2 separate regions of the Homo sapiens genome follow, and region 2 is linked to region 1. Evidence: fine-mapped expression QTL. A gene starts in region 1. The other region holds a variant in brackets. All regions are shown on one strand. Distances are between the middles of the regions. Region 1 holds the start of TMX1 (thioredoxin related transmembrane protein 1). Region 2 holds the start of LOC105370489 (a long non-coding RNA gene).

Region 1 (5,380 bases):
AAACCAAAGACATTACAAGAAAACTACAGACCAATATCTCTAAGGAATATAGACATAAAAATATGCAACAAAATACTAGCAAACTGAATGTGGCAATATATAAAAAGAATTATACACCATGGCTAAGTGGGATTTATACCAAGAATGCAAGGTTGATTTCATGTCCCAAAATCAATCAATGTAATACACTGTATCTTTGGGAGGCTGAGGCAGGCAGATCATGAGGTCAAGAGAAAGAGACCATCCTGGCCAACATGGTGAAACCCCGTCTCTACTAAAAATATAAAAATTACCTGGGCGTGGTGGCACGTGCCTGTAATCCCAGCTACTCGGGAGTTGAGGCAAGAGAATTGCTTGAATCCAGGAGGCGGAGGTTGCAGTGCGCTGAGATCACACCACTGCACTCTAGCCTAATGACAGAGCAAGACTCCGTCTCAAAAAAAAAAAAAAAAAAAAAACAAAAAAAACACCATATCAATAGAGTAAAGGACAAAAACCACATGGTCATTTCAATAAATGCAGAAAAAGGATTTGTCAAAATTCAACACTTCTTCAAGATAAAAACAGACGACCTTCTAGGAATAGAAGGAAACTTCCTCACCTGTATAAAAGGCAACTATTTAGAATTCACATTAACATCATACTTAGTGGTAAAAGACAACGCTTTTCTCCTAAGAACAGGAACAAGATAAGTATGTTTGGCCACTCTTGCCATTTCTATTCAACATTGTAATGGAGGTCTAGTGTCTTAGCTTGGGCTGCCATAATAAAATATCATAGACTGGGTGGCTTAAACAATAGAAATTTATTTTCTCACAAATTTAGGAAGTTCTCATTGTACTCAAGGCAAGAAAACTCTGGACTAGGGTGTTGGCTGTTGAGATGGAAATTGGTGGTCAGATTCAGGATACGTTTTGAAGGTAACGTTTACAAGATTTGCTCATAGGTTACAAGAGGAGAAGGTGAAGAGAGAGAACAATAAAGAATTAACATGTACATGTTTGGCTAGAGAAACCTGGTGAACCTCGGGGCTCTTTAGTGGATGGAAGACCAGGAGAGGAAGAATCAAGAATTATCTTTTTTGGCCGTTTGATGTTTGAGCTTCTGAACCCCCAAAATCTGAGACAGGTCTCAGTCAATTTAGGAAGTTTATTTTGCCAAAATTAAGAATGCGCGCCCATGACATAGCCTGAGGAGGTGCTGAGGACATGTGCCTAAGGTGGGTGGAGCACAGCTTGATTTTATATTATATATTTTAGGGAGACATGAGACATCAATCAACATATGTAAGATGAACATTGTATTGGCCTGGAAAGGTGGGACAACTCAAAGCAAAGGCGGGACAAACTCGAAGCCAGGAAGGGGCTTCCAGGTCATAGGTGGGTAAGAGACAAATGGTGGCATTCTTCTAAGTTTCTGATTAGCCTTCCAAAGGAGGCAATCAGATATGCATTTATCTCAGTGAGAAGAAGGATGAGAGGCAGGTTTGCCCTAAGCAGTTCCCAGCTTGACTTTTCCCTTTAGCTTAATGATTTTGGGGCCCCAAGATTTCTTTTCCTTTCACCAGCTATTACATACCCAAGAGATGTTTAGCAAGGAGTTGAATACATATGCCTGTAGTTCCCAGAAGGATCAGAGTCTGAATGATATACAGTTGAATACATATGCCTGTAGTTCCCAGAAAGATCAGAGTCTGAATGATATACAGTTGAATACATATGCCTGTAGTTCCCAGAAAGATGAGAGCCTGATGATATGAAGAGAAAGGTGGCGGGAGATGGGGGGCGGGGGGCAGTAAAGCATCCTGGAGATGCCGATGTCCGGAAGTAAAGGAGGACCAGCCAAGAAGTTTGAGAAGAATCAGCTACTGTAGGACAGAAAAAAAAGCGAGCTGCCCAGACAGCAAGATAGTAAAGTGTTTCAAGGGTGTGGTAGAATGGGGCTAGGAGTCATGCTAGATGCATTGAGAAGAAACAATTGGGATTTATCTTGCTGGTCGCTGGTGTCCTTGAGAGGGCTATTCAGTGGAGGGGTGGGGAAGGGGACTAATTGGGGTTAATTAAGTTGAAAAGGTGAGGTAAGATAGTGGCAACTATTTCCTTGAGACTTAGTCTCTCTCTATAGCCCAGATTGGAGTGCAGTGGAATGATCTCGGTTCACTGCAACCTCCGCCTCCCGGGTTCAAGCGATTCTCCTGCCTCAGCCTCCTGAGTAGCTGGGACTACAGGCGCCTGCCACCACGCCTGGCTAATTTTTGTATTTTTAGTAGAGACGGGGTTTCACTATGTTGGTCAGGCTGGTCACAAACTCCTGACCTCAAGTGATCCGCCTGCCTTGGCCTCCCTGTTTTGCTAGGATTACAGGCGTGAGCCACCGCACCTGCAACTATTTTCATTTGACTGATGGGGCAGTGCACATTTTGGTTTGCATTTGTATTTACGAATGTTTGAGAGAAAAAACTCAAATATCTTACAAGCCTATGTGTCTGGTTCCATTTTGAAGTACTGACCTAGGATCTCTGTACCTACTGAATTTTTTTTGAGAGATAACATACACCTGAAAGTGCATAAAGTGCACTGTCTTAAAATGTACAGCTTGATCCTTCTTTAAAAAAAATCATATACGTACGCCCATGTAACTACTGTTCATATCTAGATGTTGAACACCTCCAACACATCCAACATAACCATAATGTTCCTCTGCACCTTCCCTGTCTATAATCTCTCAGAAGTAAACCAATATTCCGACTCCTATAAAATCCATTAGCTTTACTACATGTTTCAAAGAAAACAAATGAGAACTCTGAAGGACATTTAATTGGAAAACTGCTTTAGCACATTATAAACTTACCAATTTGCTTGTAAACGCTAACCATTTGGCGCCAAAATCCTGGGAGGGTCTTTTAAACCGTTCTTCCTCAAAGCACCGCCCCACTTTTTACACCACGCCTCCTTTTGCTCTGTTCCTTCCCCCACAATATTGGGACACCCTAGGCGGTAGAAGCAGCCGCTTTTCTGTCATGCGCATTGCGGAGAGTCGTTCTTCCCTCTTTCCCGACTTCACCACTCACTGGGATCAGACCCCTGTCATGCGCATTGAGAGTCCTCTAGACAGGCGCTCCTCGCAGCACCGTAGTGCGCTTGCGCTGAGCAGCCCGCGAGGGCGGAAGTGGGAGCTGCGACCGCGCTCCCTGTGAGGTGGGCAAGCGGCGAAATGGCGCCCTCCGGGAGTCTTGCAGTTCCCCTGGCAGTCCTGGTGCTGTTGCTTTGGGGTGCTCCCTGGACGCACGGGCGGCGGAGCAACGTTCGCGTCATCACGGACGAGAACTGGAGAGAACTGCTGGAAGGAGACTGGATGATAGAATTGTGAGTGCGGGGCGGCCAGGGTCCTACGTCCGTGCCTGGACACACGACTTCACCCCGCACGTTCCTCGTGCGGGTCGCAGGCTCCCCAGGACTGCGCCTCCGAGTTGCGGAGCGAGCGTCCCCGACTTCTGCAGCTCCCCAAACTCTTGGGATCTGCCGCCAGCTTGGTCCCACCCCCTCGTCTCTTACCCGTGAATGTTAAGTTTCTTCTGGGGTGCACCCTCGTTTCGTTTCTTGGGTTGTGGTGCGCCCAAAGGGTTAGTGCCAATGCGAATTCTGACATTTTTCATGACTTTGAGGATGCGACTGGGGCGCGGGGAGGGAGGTGTCCGACTCGTGTCTAAGTAGTTAAAGTGATTCTTCACAGACTTCTACACTTATTTTCACCACATTTTACATAAGAGAATATTGAGCAAAATTTCTCCTCTCGTTTTGTCTGTCCTTAAAAGATAGTCTCTTTATGGTGTTGGAATTTGGCGCTTTTAAGCTTTTTTTAATGGATTGGGTACGTTTCTTTTTTATTGTAAATACTGAGTCAATTCAAGTTGGGTTATTTTTAAGTTTTCGTTTTCTCTTTTTGCCTCCTCTTTTGCTTTCTCTTTTTTTCACTCCTCATCTCATTTTTCCTTTGGGTGTCTTTGTAGTGTAGAGAATACCTTGGGTTGTGACTCCTAGGTCTTTGTAAATGGTATTACATTAAAAGATAATGTATTAATGTATACACTCTCAAGAGCGCCAGGTCATCATTTATTGCTCGAACGAAATCATGTATTTTGTGTGGTGATTTCAATTTAATAATATCTGTTCTGCCGCGGTGGGAAATAAAGTATCTGTCTTTGCTTTAGATGCTAAGTCGTTGTTGATGGTGGTATTATACATATTAGCAGTATTTACTGATAATAGTAAAAGCATAATTATTAACAGTGTACTGGACACCACTAAGCACCTTTACACGAATACCATATTTAATTCCCTACAAATTCTCTATGACAGGTGTTTTTCACGTTTTACAAATGAGTAACAAGATACCTAAATACTTTAGTTAACCTATGCAGATATTGCTGTGCTGGCTTTCTTTGGGTCTTCAGAGTAGGCATACAATAATTGTTGTTAGAACACCTTCTTCTTTAAAAAGGTTCAGCTGGAAGTGGCGTACGCTACCCAGGAGATTGAGGTATGAGGATGACTTGAGCCCAGGGGTTCAAGAGATCCTGGGCAACTAGCAAAATAAATAAGTAAATAAATAAAAATGAAAAGACAACAGGGTTCAGGTGAGTGTTTTCTTGTGTCACGAATACAGCAAGGGTTGTCAAGTTAAGGAGGCCAGTGAAAGTGACATCCCCAAGGGAGAACCCAGAAGGCTAAATCAGTAAGTCCTGTGTTATTTTTTAAAAAAACAAAACTGGCCGGCGCGGTGGCTCACGCCTGTAATCCCAGCACTTTGGGAGGCCGAGGCCGGTGGATCACGAGGTGAGGAGATCGAGACCATCCTGGCTAACACGGTGAAACGCCGTTTGTACTAAAAATACAAAAAATTACCTGGGCGTGGTGGCACGCGCCTGTAGTCCCAGCTACTCGGGAGGCTGAGGCAGAAGAATCGCTTGAATCTGGGAGTCAGAGGTTGCAGTGAGCCGAGGTCGCACCACTGCACTCCAGCCTGGGCGACAGAGTGAGACTCAATCTCAAAAAAAAAGTAGAACATTTATATGGAGGGTAAGATAAAGGGAAATTTTCATAGTATGCATGTAGTCTGCAATTCTGAAATGAATTTTCATTCAGGCACCATTGAAAGCTTCAGGGGAGAGGAACTGTGACACTTTTTCAGTCATCATCATGAGTAACTTGTTTTAGATCGTGCCTGTAAAATAGTGTTATAAGCAATATATTAAGCAATAGTGATCGTGTGTGTATATGCAAAATACAGTCAAGTATTACTCAAGGATATTTTTTAACTCATTATGGTCCAACTATATAAATACAGCAATCAGAAGTAGTATTAAGGAGAACAAGACTAA
Region 2 (5,380 bases), 420 kb before region 1:
AGAAGAAAGATGACTGGCAGTAAAAACCACTTATAATTTTACAACTATAATCCCTACTGTATGCATCATGAAAATGATAACACTTGGATGGCTCCAGTGAATCCTATGGCATTTTTTCTTATAATTTAAAATTATGGACCATATAGAGTATCTTAATAGCATATGGCCAAGTCTGTGTGATCATCTGAGGAGAATAATTTGGTTTCATTAAAAAATGCAAATTTAACAGTAGTGCATTAACTCATGCCAACCCCCCCACTCTCAGGACTATCACCAGGGACCTCCCACATGAAATCAATATGCATCCATCTATTTAACTTTTATCACTGGCTCACTAAGTAAATATCACACTATAGACCACTTAAGTATTCATTATTCAGGCAAATAGCAAGCGTCAGAAGCAGGCTGGTAGTGTCAAGTCGTTAACAAATCAATCAATAACTGCTCCCTGTTTGAGTCTACCAAATGAGGGCAAAGATGTGCAACATCTGGAGAGCAAAGCATTGACCTGCTGCCAAGGTGCAGTCTGTTTACGGCGTGGCATTCCATATTTACGCAGACTCTAAGAAAACCACTCAAGGAAACCTTAGTTGTATCATGCCTTTTCAGACTTTAATGAGCATTAAAACAGATCAGCCCATTGATACTATCCTTTAGACACCAAAAGTACTGAGATCCCCAAGGACCATACTGGGAGATGCCAGTTTTTTTGCTACCCACAGAGTCTAAGACTGAGGCGGAACTGGAAAATATGTGAGTGCATGAGGAGCAAATGGTTCAATCTTCGAAGCTTCATTTTAAGATTATTAAAGCAAGATTTTTAGCATTTTATGGGGACCACATGTATGTAGAGACAGCTAACCCTCCCCCCGCCACAAGAGGCCAAGAATGGCTCCAGTTTTTGCAAAGAAGTCACATATTTTTTTCAAGTGTGAGTCCCATTTAACATCACACTCATGTGCCAAGTGCCTGAGAATATCATCTTTTGCACATGAATTTCAGGATGATGGCTACTCCTGTCTGTCTCAGGTTACAGAAAGCCAATACATGGTACTATATCTGAAGTCACTTACCTCTCTTGTCAGCTAAAAGACAGTGAAAATGAAATGAAGAAAAGGAAGCTCAGTCACTAGAATAAAGTTAAGCCTCACAACTGCTTCCTCAATTTATACGTGATAAAAACCAGAATGAAGCAACAGACTGCAAAAAGTGTTGTCCATCTTTTTCTCTCATCATTCCAAAATCCAACAGCAAGAGACTTGACTCAAAGCCATATAAACCTATTGATTATAAATAGCTATTAATTATAAATAAGGCAAATAATAAAAGCTATTAATTATAATGAGGAGAATTGAAGGCAATCTCAGGTCATGGCAGATCAAATATCCACCATTGGCAAGAGGAAAAAAAGACCCTCTCTCACTTCTTACTCACATCTGTGACTTGATCTATGGTAATAACATGACTATTTGTCATCAAACACAGAGGTTAACATTGGCGTGCACACACACATCCCTGCTGGAAGCAAGCCGTGCTGGGTTTTAAATGAACCTGCACTGTATTTATTTACCCTGCTGTCTTATTTCCTGGGTAGAAAGTTTAATTAATACTTCACCCAGAAATAATCCACACAAGAAATAGCTTCACTGGGAGTAAAAGTCATAACAATAGCTTTCTTACTGCATTTTCTTTCTCTTCAATGGAAATCTCACCCTCCTCCTTTCTGTCCCAGTGATGAATGTGGAGTCAATAAAATAAACCACAAAGAACAAGAAAAAAGTTGGAAAACATCCTTTCATTGCCTCTTTATCTAAGATGCTCACTGTACACCATAATTCCAGAGCACAAATTAAAGCAGGCTCTTGTCACCCTAGCAAACTGGACTGTGATGTCACACCCATTACATTCTTCTTTTTATCATGTAACAGCCAGGATGCTAGAAACAAGTTGCAACATGTGTGGTCCGCCCCACCCCCAGCACCCCGGCAGAAACCGCACCCCACTTCCCATAGCCACGTTCTTCCCCAGACCTTACCCTGCCCAAGAGGTTGTCCTGAAGTAATGTCTGCTGCAGCACTGGGGCCACCTCCTCCAAGCTCAACATGTGGCAAAGGTCGGTGAGTTCCTCCTGCCCCAGGGACCCTGTGCCCGTCGTGTCAAAACTGTCAAACAGCTCCTTGAGTCGGGCCTCATGCTGGTCCTGCTCCACCTCATCCATCCCATAGCCCACAGTGCTCACCTGTGTGTAAGACAGAGACAAGGACAGGTTGTGGCAGCCTCTCCAGTCCTACCGTGGTCACCACCTGGCACATTCCCGTTCTCTGTACCCCACCAGTCTCTAGGGAATGCTCGGGAACACCCAGTTTCTGATGCACCCCACAGCAAGACCCCCAGTCTCTGTAGGACCAGCCCTGGCCAGTGACACTCCTGCATGCACTCACATCAGGGGCATATACATAAGCTCAGATCACACTGGGAGCAAAATTACCAGAATGAGAGGGTCACGTACAGTAGAAGACACCCTCCTCTCTTGCCTGGTTCTCAGGCGGACAGCCAGACTGCCAAACTCAAGGCTGAAGGTGGTTCTCTCCCAGCTCTTCTAGCCCAGGATTTTAAGAAGGTGAAAAGCCACTTTGACAGCAAGACTATTCAAGTGAACTAATTGTTAGCGCCAGCAGACTGCATGGTCAGAGCTTCCATGCTAGCTGGCAAGCTTTAGACAACCTGCCCCGATGGTGCAATCGGTCAGCGTGGCCAAGCTGATTCGTTCTACTTCATTCAGCTTAGATGGCCCCCATCATAGCTAGACTGGAGGGCTGCAGCAAGAGGCACTAAATGAACACGACGTCTGCTACAAAACCACCTCCCTGTTTTACATGAAACTAAATGCCTTTTACACGAGTTCCTCAAAAAGCAACTCAATTAACTTCACTGGTGCAATTACATGAGGTGTGACGGGAAGAATATTCCCAGAAGCTTGCTTTAGTCCCAGCGAGTTTTAGGTAATGCTTAGTTGCCTAGAGAAAGGGGAAGACACTATTTCAACCTTTCAGACAGTGAGGTTTAAAGGAGCCACTGACTGGTTTATATGAATCATACAGCATCTCAGGGAACCTCCACTCACTAAAGCATCTCATCTCTTTATGCCTGGTTAACCTGTGTTCCGTCTCTCTCACCTACCCATACTCCAGGCTTTCCATTTTGCCACTGTCCTTAGGATCAGTAAAAACTTGGAGACGTCAATAACTGAGTCATTTTTGTTAAAAATATACATCATAAAATTCCAGGTAGCTCGTATTTTACTAATGAAATCTGTGGTTTTTTTTTTTTCCTTGCATGACAGTTCATTTTTAACGTGCTGGATTTTCC[G/A]ATGAAAGCCTGAAACCTGCACATCTGAAGATGCCTTCGCCATGATGCAATGGATGCCAAACACGACATACACCCTTGGGACGGTGACCTCAGCCATCTGCAACAAGGCTCTCAGAACCAGTCCTTTGACTATAAAAAAAGCAGCAGCTTTCACTAACCAAGCATCTTTAATCCAAGCCAAATTACAGAACTCTCTAACTTAGAGGTGATCGTCCATACGGCAGATCATTACAACATGAAAAACGTAAGCTAAGATGTTGAACACAGCCAGAACTGAAAATAAAAGAGCTTTCTAAAACAAATCAATGTTGCTCTAGGTTGTGTTTGCTTTCTTTCCATAGACAGCTGTTCAAAACATGACAAGCTACAACAGGGCCACGATCTTGCCAGGGGTTTCAGCAGAACTGGGTGGACACAGAAGATAAATGTGAACAGCTCTGCCATACAGCTCAGTTTTTACTGGGGCCACTCATTAAAGTAAAGCAACATGGCACAATTTTGGTCCAGGTTCCTGGTCTTGGACAGGTCTCTTCTCCTAATTATCAGTTTTTCTGTTACTAAGGTGCTGCAGGCTCTGGCTGTCTTCCCAGGATTGGTCTGTTGGGTTAACTAATCACTATGTAAATGTTTTCAAAATAAGTTGAGAGTGTTATATAAACATCAAAGCCTCAGAAAAGAAACACCAAGTTGTTATGCAAAGCCACAGGAGTTAAGAATTTAGACAAGGCCAACACTTCGCTAACAAGATTCACTTAGAGTCCACCAGTTAATTGTCAACTAAGATCTGCTGAGAATCCCCAAGGTGCTCCAGGATTTTCAGTGTTGCGGTAGCTCTTAGTCTCACTCTGAGTTTTACAGTCCCCTGGGCTGTTATCTGACCGACCTCATAAAAGCAAGACTCTTCTTTTGCTTGATTTTGCATATATGTTTAAAAACTCAAAAGCGAAAGAATTCTAACACTTCCCTTTTTAAAAATTATTTTTAAGGGGCGGGGATTTGTCCATCTTAAACCAATGAAAGAGAGGAATAAAACACTGATGTACTGAGAAGCCCTGATCTTATCCACGGTGTCGAATTTGATATACTATCATGCCCCACTCTTTGGGAGGTCATTGGATTTTCACTAAATCAAACCTCTTTCATTTTATGGCAGCTTTCTTTTCTTTATCTCTTTATTTCATCTCCTTCCTTCTCAAAACACTGTGCTTGACTGAAGGGGAGACAAGCACCACCCCTGTGGAACAAATGCTCACGCTGAAACATCCAGGAGATGTTACGCATGGTGACAAGTTGTCAGTGCTCATCTGGCACAGAAGGCATTTTTACTGGTTGATATTATTTCCCAAATGTTCATCAGTAATTTCATGTGCAAGAATTTTTTTCTCCCCACTTGGCAGAAAGTTCTTTAATGGTAAGATCCACGCTCCTATTTCTTTTATATCTTCCCCCAAATGCATACTACAGTCAGTCTGTTCTTCAAGCCAGGGATTTGGTAAATATCATGGATTGACTTCCTGTATGGATCACTCCTTGAGAGGAAACGTACCCTAAATGAGGTCTACAGAAATGGGCATATGAAAATTTTGGAATGCCCATCTCATCCACCTACACACCTCCACTTCCCCCATCCCACCCTTTCTCAAAGGCATTTTCAGCCTCCTAAGCAAGAAGTAGAAAGCCAACACCAACTGCCAATCTGTAACATGCAGCGCTGTCTGAAGTTTAATTCAATAGGCTAGTAATTAAGTAAATGGATTCACAAACTTCGACTGCATTGTCTTGCTATGGGATGAAACTTTGGAGGAGAATCTATACTAAAACCTTTCTCAAGTCCCCTCGATTACAGCATGAGAATAACAATATCCATCTGGAAGGTTTGTTCTGAGAGTTAAATGTGGCAAGCAAGCGAGAGTGGCTAATTCCAGAGAAAGCTGATACAAGAGGGAATTTAAGATAACCAAAAGAATACCTGCAGCTACAAAGGAGTGGTAAACTGAAGAGGAGGTAACAA

The links.
Region 2: its variant is fine-mapped to the expression of TMX1 in vagina (GTEx, PIP 0.95).

Annotation. Positions count from the first base shown.
Region 1 is chr14:51,237,080-51,242,459 of GRCh38, forward strand. TMX1 (thioredoxin related transmembrane protein 1) reads left to right here and starts at 3,168. Exons shown (of 8, transcript NM_030755.5): 1 at 3,168-3,365. The coding sequence starts at 3,214. RefSeq lists a silencer at 3,004-3,346 and an enhancer at 3,207-3,446.
Region 2 is chr14:50,819,839-50,825,218 of GRCh38, forward strand. NIN (ninein) reads right to left here. Exons shown (of 31, transcript NM_020921.4): 3 at 2,036-2,239. The coding sequence starts at 2,218. It overlaps LOC105370489 (a long non-coding RNA gene), which reads left to right and starts at 1,959. Exons shown (of 2, transcript NR_135258.1): 1 at 1,959-2,113; 2 at 3,344-3,671. RefSeq lists an enhancer at 1,968-2,017 and a silencer at 2,478-2,537. The variant G/A (reference allele first, on the strand shown) is at 3,370.